2 separate regions of the Homo sapiens genome follow, and region 2 is reported to be linked to region 1. The links are microRNA targets in miRTarBase. Many come from high-throughput screens and were not tested one by one. Region 1 holds a microRNA gene; the other region holds the end of a gene's coding sequence.
What was found. Region 1 holds the annotated microRNA hsa-miR-3973 (ACAAAGUACAGCAUUAGCCUUAG, at 4,797-4,819, shown strand). A microRNA usually pairs through its seed, bases 2 to 8, with sites in the 3' UTR of a target mRNA and lowers its output. Matches are read on the target gene's strand: a 7mer-m8 pairs with bases 2 to 8, a 7mer-A1 pairs with bases 2 to 7 and ends in A, and an 8mer does both.

Region 2: the mRNA of RIMKLB is a reported target of hsa-miR-3973. Seed matches in the 3' UTR shown: 7mer-A1 at 3,317-3,323, 7mer-A1 at 2,568-2,574 and 7mer-A1 at 2,542-2,548.

What each region holds. Positions count from the first base shown.
Region 1 is chr11:36,005,385-36,012,651 of GRCh38, forward strand. It overlaps MIR3973 (microRNA 3973), which reads left to right and starts at 4,714; the gene lies at 4,714-4,820. All of the region lies in intron 1 of LDLRAD3 (low density lipoprotein receptor class A domain containing 3), which reads left to right.
Region 2 is chr12:8,772,406-8,779,405 of GRCh38, reverse strand. It overlaps RIMKLB (ribosomal modification protein rimK like family member B), which reads right to left. Exons shown (of 6, transcript NM_001297776.2): 6 at 2,215-6,085. The coding sequence ends at 5,622. It overlaps A2ML1-AS1 (A2ML1 antisense RNA 1), which reads left to right. Exons shown (of 2, transcript NR_046715.1): 2 at 3,022-3,195. Among named protein-coding and RNA genes, the nearest start is that of LINC02972, 12 kb to the left of the region's middle. RefSeq lists enhancers at 6,298-6,797, 6,798-7,000.

The DNA.
Region 1 (7,267 bases):
CAGTCTCTTTGCTAAAGCATAGCAAGAGTGACCTTTACTCCCGTTCCCGATAAGTTCCTCATCTCCATCTGAGACCACCTCAGCCCGGACTTCATTGTCCATGTCACGATCAGCATTTTGGTCAAGAACATTCAACAAGTCTCTAGGAAGTTCCAAACTTTCCCACATCTTCCTGCCTTCTTCTGAGCTCTCCAAACTATTCCAACCTCTGCCCATTACCCAGTTCGAAAGTCACTTTCACATGTTCTGGTATCTTTACAGCAGTGCCCCACTCCTGGTACCCATTTTCTGTATTAGTTCATTTTCACACTCCTATAAAGAACTGCCTTAGACTGGGTAATTTCTGAAGAAAAAAGGGCTAATTTACTCTCAATTCTGCAAGCTTAACAAGAAGCATGACTAGGAGGCCTCAGGCAACTTAAAATCATGGCAGAAGGTGAAGGGAAAGCAAGGACCTTCTTCACATGGTGGCAGGAGAGAGAGAGCGCGAAGGGGGAAGTGCCACACATGTTTAAAGCATCAGATCTCATGAGAACTTGCTATCACGAGAGCAGCAAGGGGGAAATCCATCCCCATGATTCAGTCACCTCCTACTAGGCCCCTCCTCCAATTCGACATGAGATTTGGACAGAGACACAAATCCAAACCATATCTAAGATGTTGAGCAACTTAAACAAAAACTGCGCCCTTGCCCACTATAGATGCCCAGTCGTTCCTCATCCCACAGGAAATATGGGCTCAGAGACCTCAATGGTGGGTAGCATCATTGAGTGTTTTCCTCTAGCCCCAGCAGTTTGATTCTGTTTAATCCTTCTTTTCTCCCTAAATTATGTGGGCGCCATAGTTACCAGAGTTACAATTAATTCACAGATTAGGGGAAAAGCCATGACTTTAGGAAGCATATGGATGAATTAAAATGTTGGCTTTTCTACTCATTAGCTGGATGCTCTTGACTTTTCCCAGCCTTGGTTTCCTTAAGGGTGCAGTCAAGGGGATGAGATGCCTCCCAGAGTTGTTCTGAGAATTAAATGGAACAGGTTTAGTGAAAGCGCTGAGCTGTGTGCCAGGCATATACGAAGTAGGAGTTACTGAATGGATGTGTGATGGTGGTTCACCCTCCCCGAATCCCAGACTGGGCACCTTGGGCTCGCTGCCTCTCCATAGCTGCTGCAGTTCCTAGTGTTTAAGAGTGTGGGTTTTAGAGTCATACAGACCTGGGTTCCATGACTGTCTGATTATGTTTCCTTGGGCAAGTTTTTGAACTCTCTGAGCCTTAGTTTTCTCCTCTGTAAACTTAGCACTGGTTCCTTCCTCCATCACATGGTGGTGGTGAACAATCCCATGACAATGCAGGATGTAGATATTTAGCTCAGTGCCTGGTGCATAAATAGTGCTCCACTGTTATCACACAGGGTGAAATTGCCTTATGGGCTCAAGCCCGTGGATTCAGACCTTACTTCTGGCTGCATCTGCCTTGCTCCAGATGTCGACTATTCCCCTTCCTGCAGGGGAAGTCGCACTTTTAGCCCAAGAGGGAGGAAATGGCTGCTCCATTGCCACCATCCTGCTCAAGGTTCAGCCCTACTGGTCCCATATTTGTGCCTTGACCTGGGTTACTCTGTCCCCAGCCCCACACAGTGGGCCTCAGTGACTCTCTCAGTCTGTGGGGGAGAAAGTTAACAATTCTGATTCCAAGAGCTTTGGAAAAATCCCACCTCCTCCAGCAGTCATTATTTATTTATACTTTAATCTTCATGGATTACTCTGAGTTGCTCATAGCTTTCCAGAAAGCTCCGAGTAAGTGGAAGTCGTACATGCACCCGAAGTAATTAATGCACTTTCTACTAGTGAGAGAAGGTGTAATTCGCAGGAATGTGTGTCAAGACCCACCCTGCTAAATTTATACCCTGTAATTTGCAATGTTTGTTGGCACTGAATTGGCAGGTTGGTGAGTCTAGCCTACCTGCTTTGCAATTATATCTACTGGCCGGTATTGTAGGATTGAGTAACTGGAGAGACTCATCACTTAAGTAAATTAGAACCTGCTTCTGGGACCCATCTGAGATCACCCTCTGGTAGGGAGGCTGGTTAATCATGTTTCCTTTGTGCATACTGGAGAGAATCTGATAAAGGTGAGGGAGGGAAGAGGCGAAGGCAGTCCTGAGGCTTGCCTGAGTGTGGAAGGACCGGCGGCTTGGGAAGGCATTTCTTCAGCAGTCCTCCTCAGCCAGCACTCTGGAAAAGGAAAACACAAAACTGTTAGAACAGAAATGGTCTTATGGTCCATTTTATGAGCTGCATCAGCCCTAATAATCAGCTCTGGGGGAGACTCGTGTTAGTTTTTAAAACTAGAAGTCACTTTGCAGCCTCTGCAGACCAGTGATTTTAGTACAGTCCTCGTAAATTTTCTTTCTGAGGGGAAACTGGCAGGAGAATCCGACAGGCTGCAATGTAAGCTTGTAGTTCAGGTGCTGGGAAGCGGGTGTGAGATGGTTGGATTTTTCCATGGCTATGTTTTTGTGGCCAGATAAAAGAATTGAGTGAAGATGAAATAAAGTTTAGGCAGACCCAACCCTTGTAGAAATCCCAGACACTCAGTTTACTCCACGTGACCTCTGGTGGACTGTTCAGCCTACCTGAGTGGCCTCTTCTCCTTTGTGGAAGGGAGCAAATGAGTCTTTTGATTAAAGTTGTTATAAATATTAGATGCTTGTAAAGGCTCCGGCACATGGAGAATACCCAATAAATGGTAGTTATCATTAGGGCCATTTTTATGTGAGGAGGGCATATTATTTGTCATTTGTAAAGAACACTTGGGGACGCAAACCAGGCAGAATGGGTAAACAAATTGGGTAAAATCCTATATTTTTTCAAAAAGCCATTTGAATGTGCACCTGAGGCCTGAAAATGTGGATTAGATACAGATTGTGCTTTGATGAGAGTGCAGTTGTACCTCAAGGAAAGCCTCCTCCATCCCAACTCCAGGGTTCATGGAAGACGGTAGCATTCCTATTTGGTGTTGGGACCTCTTCAAGGCTTGAGAAAATATAAGGAGGAATTTAGAATCTGGGGAGAGGGATCCTTTCTCCCAGGAGTTTGTTGGGGTCAAGAAATGTAACTTTAAATGCTCCTATTGCAAGATTGGGTTTGTCGATACACAGGCAATTCTTTGGGTGTTCCAGTCCTATGGGGTGAGAAAGAATGAATATATATATTTTTTATCTGTCTCTGTATGTGCCTGTGTCAATTCCTAGTAAATATTTATGGGCTGGCAAGTTGCAACTGGGAAAGGCCCATGTTTAACTGGCTAAATATTAATAAGCATATTCAAGAGAACTGAGGTCTTTGTTTTGTCTTCTTAAGAAATGAATCCGCTCTTATTCACTGTGTATTCACAGGAAACTGTGCTGTTCAGGGAAGAAGTACTGCCTTGTTTTCCTTGTAGGCTTTCCAGCTTGGATTTCGATTTCCACTGAGGCCTTATTTTTAAAAACATGTTTTTACAGCAGCATTACAACTGTGGAGATTATAGCAGTCTCCTACAGCTTTGGTTATGAAAATAATATATATCGTCTTTTTATTCCCTTTAATTGACCATTCTCTTACCTTCCTTTGTCTCCACATGGAGACACGGCTAGATATCTCCCTCCTTTGTATTTTTTTCTCTCTTCTCCAACACTCTGAGATCAAGGCCCAAGTAAGTACACACCTTCACTTTTATCCTGGTTTCCTGGTATCCAGTGAAATGGATTTCATACTGCTGAAATGTCCATCCTTTCCCCAACTCATATCTGTGGCTACTTCTACCTTTCTCTTCCTGGAACTTTCCTGAAGAGTTAATTTCCTTATCTTGGCAGTGCTTCCCAGGAAACTCCCTTTTTTGCTCTGAGACAGACCTTTTAATAGTATTAAATCAAATGCTTCCAAACCATAGTTTAGACCCCCTGCTCTGGGAGCAGTCATCATAGGCAGGGCTTTGACGAACTCCCTTTGCAGGATCTGGTTGTCTATCCTGGTCACCTGGATTTACAAAAGGCTAAGAATAGCATTGGAGAAGACAGTCCTGTATTATTTTTCACTTACATACCTGAAAAATTAGTTTCTATCCGAATAGAAATGGATTTCCACCCAGCCAGAGGTTTATGCTGAAAGATGTAAAGTGGAATTGGGAAGATAAAATTAGACTCTTTAGGAAAGAATGGGTTTCCCACCTCCACTATAATCACTGTCATGCACCCTTATAAGTGGATTGGGTGTTGCTGAAATGCAAATGCCATTCGTTCTGTTGCTGATTTGCTTACCGAAAGTTGCAGAAATTCAATCCATGCAGAAAATTCTATGAGTCACTTCATTTCCTGCAACATTTTTTTTCCATTATTCATATTATGGAAAAGAGCACATCAAAAAGGCAGGTCTGCAAATAACACAGTTTTCAAAAAGATTGTTTTATTTTTCTTACGAAGAAGTTTTCCAGAAATCTGTAACCAGTATCAGGAATTCTCCAGCTTTGTATACATAGCCACTCATGATCGGATTCTACTCCTTGCTTTTATCTTGCTTGTTGTCTTTGGGGTTTTGAAGATTTGAAGGAAACTGGTCAGAATTATTGACAAAGTGCTCAGGCCTCAAAAAATACTATCAGAATAAGGGACTGAAGAGTATAACCTACTTTATTGTGTTTGTGTCTGGAGTATCTGAGTGTTAAAATTTGAAGCCCAGGGTAGCTCTCTGTATTGCTTGTTACATTTTAGGATTGCTTGCCCCTTGCTCCAATGGTGCAGGCAGAAGAAATGCAAACAAAGTACAGCATTAGCCTTAGCAAAACATATAACTAGGACAGTGGATCTGCTGCCAAAAATACCATCTGCTGTTTTCCAAAGCCAGAGATGGATGACTTGAGTTGTCTCTGCCTTCAGCAAATAGTCAAGAGACTAAATAGATTTATTTACTTTAAGTTTGCCCAGCCCTTCATAATATTTCTTATTAGAAGAAGAATATATTTTGGAATTAGTGAAGATAGACCCAACTCTTTGATTCCCAAATGGATGCCTAAAAATTTCCAATAGCTTCCAAATTGGATTTTCTTATTACTTTTCTTTCCCATCTCTTTCTACATAGGGCTGCCAGGTTAACCTACCTGAAGCATTACTCATCTCATGTCACTCCCTTGCTCAAAAACGGATGATGTTGGCTTCTCCTTGTGTATAAAGTTAAGTCCAAGTTCTATAGTCTGGCACTTAAAGCTTTTCCCACCCTTATATCCTCCTCTCCATGACCATTTGCTTTCATGCCTCCATTTAGCTCAGCGTTTCATTTGGAATAGAGGTCTGCATCATACCCAACCTGCAAAGCAGCCTGGGTGGAAATTATTCCATGCAGCATTCCATGATGCTTCCCCTGGAATAAATTTCCCCCTCCTTAGAAATTCTTTTTTTTTTGAAATGGAGTTTCGCTCTTGTTGCCTAGGCTGGAGTGTGATGGTGCGATCTTGGCTCACTGCAACCTCTGCTTCCGAGATTCAAGCAATTCTCCTGCCTCAGCCTCCTGAGTAGCTGGGATTGCAGGCATGCACCACCAAGCCTGGCTGATTTTGTATTTTTAGTAGAGGTGGGGTTTCTCCATGTTGGTCAGGCTGGTCTCGAACTCCTAACCTCAGGTGATCTGCCTGCCTTGGCCTCCCAAAGTGCTGCAATTACAGGCGTGAGCCACCGCACCCAGCCCCTCTTAGTAATTCTTACATTCCATTTCTTACTTTCTTCTGTGGCATTTATGACTTCCAACTTTTATAATTATAAAATAATTTTAATTTTATAGCTCTTTAGGTGCACACTTCTTCTCTCCTGCTCAATAGTAGGTTTTTGATGTGCTCAAGTCTTGTATTCCCTGCAACCTTGAGTATAGTAGGTGTCTAATGCTTTCTTTTTGGGTAAATGAATGAATCAGTTAGTTGAATGAGTGCTTACTACAAAACAGAGCATGCGATAGGCAGCGGGTATCTATTAAATATAAATATCTTGTTCCATGGCCCCAATCAGTGAAAAATGTCATTGTTGAGGAGGTCACTGGCTAGGAATTTTAGAAGTGAGAACACAGTGGTCATTGCTGTAGTCTAGATTTGGGTGGTCCTTCAACACTTCAGATGTATAATTAATTTGGGATTTGTGTATCAAAAGTTCTGCTACCTCAATAATACTGATATTATAACCTTTGAAAGGGTGGAGAGAGAACCATAAGCAATTGTAACTTATGTATTCTTCATCAACAGGTCTATTCTGCTATTTTGGGGACATAGCAGAGGTCAGTTGGAAAGAGATTTAGCGAGCCAGTTAGAGCCTGATTTGCATGCTAGTTCTCATTACCTGGCTTGTCATCTTGAACCTCAATTTCCTCATCTGGAAAATGGGTATAAGTAGCTACCCGATGCAGTGTGGATTAAATGACAAACAGAAAGCACCAGTGCAGGCTCTAACACATAGTGGGTGCTCCACGAATGCAGGCATCACGTCTAAGGGAAGTCTGAGTGGCGGCCTGTCACCAGCATCATGACTGTTTGACTTCATAGTCTAACTGCATGACTGTGGGGAAGAAGGCAGGTACGGTCATAGAAGTTTGCTATTTTCTTCGAAAGTGATTTCTTACTATTGATTTTAATCAGTTTAGATTGTTGTTCTTCTATATTCTAAAGTCTCTAGGGGTTAGGAATTCTGATTAATATATTCTATAGTAGTCTCCCCTTATCTTCGGGGGGTACATTTCAAGACCCCCAGTGGATGCCTGAAACCGAATATAGTACCAAATTGCTGTCAACTGAAACCTATTTCTGTCCATGTGTTCCACCTACAAATTTAATGCCTTTCCATCCTAACTAAGCACTTATCACACACTCTGGCTATAACTTTTGCAGTTTGAGGTGTGACAGCAAAACTAGCACAAATTCTTTTTCCTTCTTCACAATTTCACAGATAGAAAATTTTTTCTCACTGTACATCTTAGCAACCTCAGCATAAGTTTTTTTTCCTTTCCTTACTAAGTCGAGAACTTTCACCTTTTCACTTAAAGGAAGCACTTTACAGCTTCTCTTTGGCATACCTGAATTACCAGCATCACTCTTCTTGTGCTTTGGGGCCATTATTAAATAAAATTGGTTACTGAAACACAAACATTGCAAGACAGAGGCAGTTGATCTGATAACTGAGACCGTTCTTAAGTGACTAATAGGCAGATAGTGTAGACAGTGTGTGTATGCTGGACAAAGGGAAGATTCATA
Region 2 (7,000 bases), not on the chromosome of region 1:
CTTCTGGGAACTGAGGCACAGGGATGTCTGTCTGACTGAAACCTAAAACAACAACAGTTCACCCCACCCCTCATGTTCCCAAACCCCACAATAGCAGCCAGGTATATATGCTATATAAGGCTCACCTAATAAGTTTGAATATGGTAAAATCTAAAAGCAAGATCATTCTTAACAAGTCAGTGGTATTCAAACAGGCAGCTGACTGGAGGTTGTTTAACTCTCCATGCCTTATACAATCACATAGTCTGTATGCTCTAATGTTAGCCACTCTTGCTGAGTACAAGGCTCTCCTGAATGAGCCTTTTTTTATTTTTTAGTATACATCACAAATTCTTGCATGAGTGCAGCTGGAAGTAAATTCCAATTCAAATTCCCTCTGTTAGTAAATTCCAATTCAACAGATAAATATTTTTGTCTTAAGATGCTTAAAGGGAATGACTGTCCTTATAAGAGTCAACTGAAGCACAGAACAGGTTAATCACTTATCACATGTCTTCCTTCAGCTACAAGAAATGGCATTACACGCCAAGAATTCCTATTCACTAACTAGTGACTTGCTGGATGTACAGCCTCTTTGGATAGTACGTCCAAAGCCACAGGATGAAATTATGCAGAAGTCTATCTTGAAAAGGTCCTGATTACTTTCACTAAAATTCTACCTATTAGAAAGATGACAATATCCCAAAATAATAAAAGCTCAGAACTAAAACTTTAGGAAGTATAGGAGAAAGGAAGAATGGGTAGGTAGACTGGGGTAAAGACGGAGGAGAGGATAGTTTAGTTTATTACCTAACAGAAAGGCTATTAAAATGGACGAGTTGTAGTCCTATCCCTGACATTTTATGTCCTTGGTTAATGTGCTTAGCCATCTTGTGCTTCAGAAATGTCCTCCTATCTGTTCAAACCTGTAATTTTTGAAGGTTTAAACCATGATTTTCTGATAATCTCAAACTGCTCACATCTCCTTGTTAGAACTAGTATCTTAGAAATGCTAAAACGATTAGTTCTGAAATCACATTGCTCCTAAAAGAACTAAATTTTTTTGTATTATCTTCGTCTTACTATTCCCTTTCACTTTTATAAAGTCACAGAGAGAAGCACTAAGGTAAAATGAATGCTATGTTGAGTTTTTACCATATATATAACCTAGAGCCTAATTTTACCTTTCAAAACTCTAGTTTTCCATACCTGTCAACTCCTAATTGATGTCTTTATACTGTGAGCTCACTGTGTATTCGGAACACCAACCCCTGAAAAAGCTTAAGCCAGAGTAGCACAATGGAAGAAACAAACAAACCCAAAACAAAAACAAAGCCAAAAAATTCACACTCTGAAATACTTAATTATAGACATATATGCAAGAAATGGAGTCATCTAAATGGCTAAACAAAATTCCCAAGTCTTGAGTATATCATAACCAAGTCAAACTTTACCCCCAAAAGCTCTTCTTTAATCATATTATTTGCTAGATACATTTATGCATTATTTTTAAGTGAGAATTATGACAAACCCATGGTTACTTTTTAAAGTACGTAAAGAAAGGAAGTTTTAAAAAAAGAAAGTTAGCCTAGTGATGGAAAGAAAGGAGAAAGAGTTAAATTACCTGTAGGCAGACTGGGGCTGTGCCTGAATCCAAACCGGTGCATTTACCATTCATTATACAGCTGCATTATTGGGGGAAGGGGAGTTTAGAAGGGCACTGACCCCGAAAGTTCTCAATACTTCTCACTCATCATCAGGAAGGGGGAAGAAGGAAAGTTTTTTCTCTGGGTATTTTTTTGTTTGTTTGTATTTGTTTTTTTGGCTCCTGAAAAGGCTGGTAAAGAACAGTAACAGTGCAAGCAGTTAGAATATTTCTTTAAAAACAATGTAAAAAATGCAAAACATTAAGGATCTTCAAAGGCCAAACTTTCATTAATATAGAAAGAATTTTCACTAGAGTTAGGCAGCCACCCCAAAACAGCATGGCAAAATGGCATTGGTATAAAGGAAATAAAATACCACACAAAAATCCAAAACAAAACTAAAAACATTTCAAATTAAACCTGGAAGACTAGAAGATTCCAACAGCAGATTTCTGTCCACTACTGAAACATTCCAAAATCCAAGCTCCAAAGGTGCCTAAATGTATTTTAAATGAAACTTTGTTTTGTTTTTTTAAGAAGAAAAAAAAAAAAAAAAAAAAAAAAAGAAAGCAAGCAAGCAGTCAGTGAACCTGGTTATAAATCCTGCAATATATTACATTTTTTAAAATCCTAGTACAACAAAAACAAATCTTAAATAAAATTGAACAAACAAACAAATAAAAACAGTAGCAGCAGTGGTTACCTGTCTGAGCACCTACATTTTCTTAGGAGGGGATCGTGTCTCACCAGCCAAATAGCCCATAAACCTTCTCAAAAAAAGTGAGCCAGGAGAAAAGTATAACACAAGATTTGATTTCACAATGTCTCTAAGCCCCACAAGCCCCAAACTGGGGATTCACTGAATGAAACAAATTTGCTTCTCCATTGCTTTCTTCTTGAGAAAAAGAGATGATTTTCAAAGTCAATGCCTTCAATATGTTCTCAAAGTCTGATAATGTGCTTGATGAATGCCAAGTCTCTTGTTGGGTTTTTCTACTGTTCCAGGGTAGTTTTCTTATTGGTAACATATACAGGAAGATTTCAATGTTCATTGGAGAAAAGCCAGCAGAAATGACCAATCAATTATAGGCACCAAAAAAGAAAAAAACTATTAAAAATTTTAAATAGAATAGTTCATACTTGTATGTTTAGATATATAAAGTCCAGTTTTCATCATGGGTGACATAAAAACAATATCAGAAATAATCATTTTTGAAATACAATTTAGAATTACAATTTTAACAATATACAAAAATTTTACAATTCAGATTTTATCATTACACATATTTGATATATACATTCTCTCTCATAATAGCAATGAAGATTATACAAAAGTTATTAAACAATTATGAAAATAAGTTTAACCTAAATATCTGCTGCTGTTTGTTTCCTTAAGGTACTTCCAGAATGATTTGCTCTTATTCTCTACCTCAATCTTGAAGGAATTCAAGAAGATATCCATGTTTTTAAAATCTAAGATAACTACTGCTCTTTTCATTCTAACATGTGAGTGTACGTTTTAATATCATGTGAATGCATAATAGTGAATAAAGCTAATGAACTAATTTCACATATTTCCTATAATATAGTTGGTTAATTTGGTATAAGTTAAGAAAAGACTAACTACATTTTTCCTGATGCCTTACCCCACCAACACAAACATGAACTACATACTTGTGATATGTAACTATTCAAAGTGTATGTGTCATAATACACATGGCAACCAGATGGTCTCTATATGAACATATGAATGATAATTTAATTAAGCAGTTCTTTCTTCCTCATTTATTTCTCTATACCAAATAGTATGCATCCTCCACAGTATGGTCATTCAGCGAAAGAAGTACCAAGTATTTCTTTCTGTTAATGAGTCAGAGGTATTAATATATGTATGTGAGTCCCCCATTTACCCTGCGCAAGATAAGTTCTTTTAAATGCAATTAGAATATCCTAAGATAAATTACAAACTCCTCTTATGTATCCTTTTCTCTGAGGTGAAATGAGACACTGCACAGATGAGAGGTACTATTCTATTCATCAACAATCAACCTTTCACTCAATTTTAATATTATTTAATTCTATGGAAAAAACAAATTTTATTACATTCCTTTTTAAAACGGGGGAAAAACTGTACAAGTAAGCATGATCAAACCTCTGTTATAGCTGGTTAATACTGATCTTTTATTATTGCCTCGAAGTCTCTCTAGTAGTGTCCAAGAAATTATGTTTAAGGTCCATCTGAAGGAAAATAGCACTGGAGAGGCAAGAAAGGGCTTGGGTAAAAGCTTCAGAGGATTCGTAGGGAGATGGAAAACTTGCTGTTTAAAAAATTACGTTGGGCTCTGCAGCATCTCCATTTCTTAACATACCATCCAAACCCATCAATGGGATTAGTTTTACCCATGTTTTAAAGGCTCATATTATATGCAGTTTGGGGGCTTTTATAAATTCTGCAAGTAAAGGAATATAAAGAGTGGACAGTATTGAAGGCTTAAGAGTAGGGCTATAAGAGACTCAATACTACTAAATAAGTCCCCAAACAAAAACATCCAACCCACCCCCAATCCCAAATCCTATATGTAAAAAGAGAAAATGCATAGCCAGAAGCATTAAAGAAAAGCATGTAGCCTTGAATAAACTGTACACTGAACAGGCTAGAAACAAAAGGAAAAAAACAAACAACGTACATATACACAAAAAGGCCTAAAAAAGCATCTACTCACCCTATGTTTTAAGGTGAATACCTCTACCCCAGTGGAGTCTACTTATGAAAACAACTCATCTGTTTTTTAAAGTCAAAAACTCTGTTTCCCATCATGCTCCATTTTCTAAATTATCCTTTTTGATTAGTTGATGGAAACAAAAAGCAAAACACATACACATGCATGCGTGCACACACATACACATATACTCCCTCGTAAAATGTGAAAAATGCAAATATATAACGCTGGCATTCGAAATCACTTCAGCTTTATACTTAGAACTCATAGGCTCTTGATTTGCCCCCAAAAATATTTTTCCTTGTCCTTATTTAAATGCCCAACTACCAAAACAAAAAGGGAAAAAATAAAAGGCTTTAAATGTACATGTTTCAAGTCAGTGTCTTGTTAACAAAAAAGGTAGCATTTTCTTCACTTTGGCCATTGTTAAAGATGCAGGCATAGAGCAGGAAATGTTAGACTAGCATGTATTAAAAAAAAAAAAAAAAGCAACATTAACAGAGCACATCTTTCAAAAAAGACTAAAACACTAACAAATACAAGTGAATGCACATATTTTAAACTAGTGTAATTTTATCTACATTGAATTAATGTTATTTTGTATACCGGACATTGCAATACTGTTCATTTCCATTTCATCATGCAAACATGCCAATTTTGTCATTAAGAAGCCTTTATTGGGTTATATTCAATTTGACCTCCCACCAAATTAAGCGGGAAAAAACAAAAAAATAAGAAATCCCAGTAAAAGAGCCCCTCAAGATTTCATAAACTACAAACTAAAGCTGCTAGTTAATAAGGAAATGGCAGAATTTTCAGAGCTGTATAATACAAAAATTCCTGTAATTTATGCAGATGTTTTCCTCACTGATGACAAATCTTCCAACACAATGTGAAGTTATGCTACTTGGATATTTGTAGCAAAACCATTTTTTTTTGTACAAAAACAAAAGCAAGGGACCATGAAAAAAAAAAAGTATTTGTTCCTCATGGCCTATGAGCATACACATTTTTTAGCAATTTAAAAGGGTAACTATGAGAGCCTGACATTTTTCTATACCCCACCTATTCTGCCTCTCTATTTGTAGGATTTGTAAATGAAAGTAACATCTTACTAGCAGAGGTCTCATCTATCTCCCACTCTCTCCAACTAATCCTACTAATTTTCTCTCATCTTCCTGAGCATCCTCCATGAACAGCATTGCAAGTTGGTTTTAAAAATAGAAAAGAAGAAAGAAAGTTTTACAAGGGTTTTGTTGGTTAATTACCAGTGGAGTCAGTCCACCAGTAGTTTGATTTCATTGGCTAGCAGCTGGTTCATGTTGAACAGGCCCCCTGGGAGCTTGGTGAGCAGCTCTCGCTCCGTGCTTTCAGGGTCGCTGTCAACAGAGCTGGAACTTGCACTCATGTTGTCAACAGCAGTGCTGGCTGGGGGACCCAGCTCCGGCTCACTAGTCTCACTGGCAGTGGACACCACGGAGAGCAGGGACATACGCCGGGTGAGCCGGCCAGAGGGTAGAAGGGAGGCGGCATAGTCTGCTATGATACCAGCTACATCTAGATTACAAGCCTTATCAAAGGCGATGAAACCTACATTTGCATTGGCCTCACAGACGCAGAAGGAGCCGTCATCTTTCATCAGCAGATCAATGCCACACACATCCATCCCCAGGATATTAGACACCTGGATAGCTAGCTGCTTCCCTTGTTCACTCAATGAGCACATCATCCCCACACCACCTGGCAAAAGAAACAAGACAGGAAATTAACAAAATCATAAACTTTTGAAATAAAATTAAAGTTGGCCTCCAAGGCTAAGCCTTTCTTCTAAATTAATAGTGAAAACAAAGGCGTTATTCTAGTGTAAAATTAGGACTTCTAAGTCTAGATTTCCTTAATCAGGAATCCTCTCCCTATCCAGTCTCCCAGGAATTGATGATTTCGTAAGTTGTCAATATTTTTTCCAAGTCTATCTTACTTGCAATAATATAAACCAAGTATAAGGAAGTTCAGCATAAATACAATTAGACCACTTGATAGATGGCAAAAGTATTATTGGTTTTTGATTTATAAAAATAATAAAAATGCATAACAGAACGGAGGATGGGGTGAAATCTGGGAAGGTGGTGACGTGAACACAGTTTTCTTCCTCTATAGCCCCCACTTCAATCTAGCTGTCATTCCTAAACCAAAAGGCTTCTGGGTTATAAGGTAGCTGGCTGGATATAAGTGAAGTCTTTGGCCTTGCCAAAAGGAAGGAAGAGAAAGGAAGTAGAACTTGATTTTCTCACTTGGAGATCAGCTTCACGAAGCTCTGAACTAAGGACAGGAAAGTAAAGAACTTTAAGAAGAGCTTGGTTCCAAGAGCTCTGTGTATCCATAGGAGTGAGGATGACATGTGAGTTTACCCGTAGTGTTTGACCCCAAAAAGGCCAGAAGTAGCTGGACAGGTGAGGTGGATCCTCCCTACCACTGAGGCTGTAGGAATAAAGAAGTCAAGGAAACAAAAGGCTTCTTTTAGGTACCTCCGTAGAAGACTGGCCCGTGAATTAAATGATTCTGCTTCACAGCACTTCTAAGACTGAGGCCATGTAGAATACTACAAATAACCCAAGCTGAGTGAGCCCTGATGTAAAAACAAAACAATAATAATCC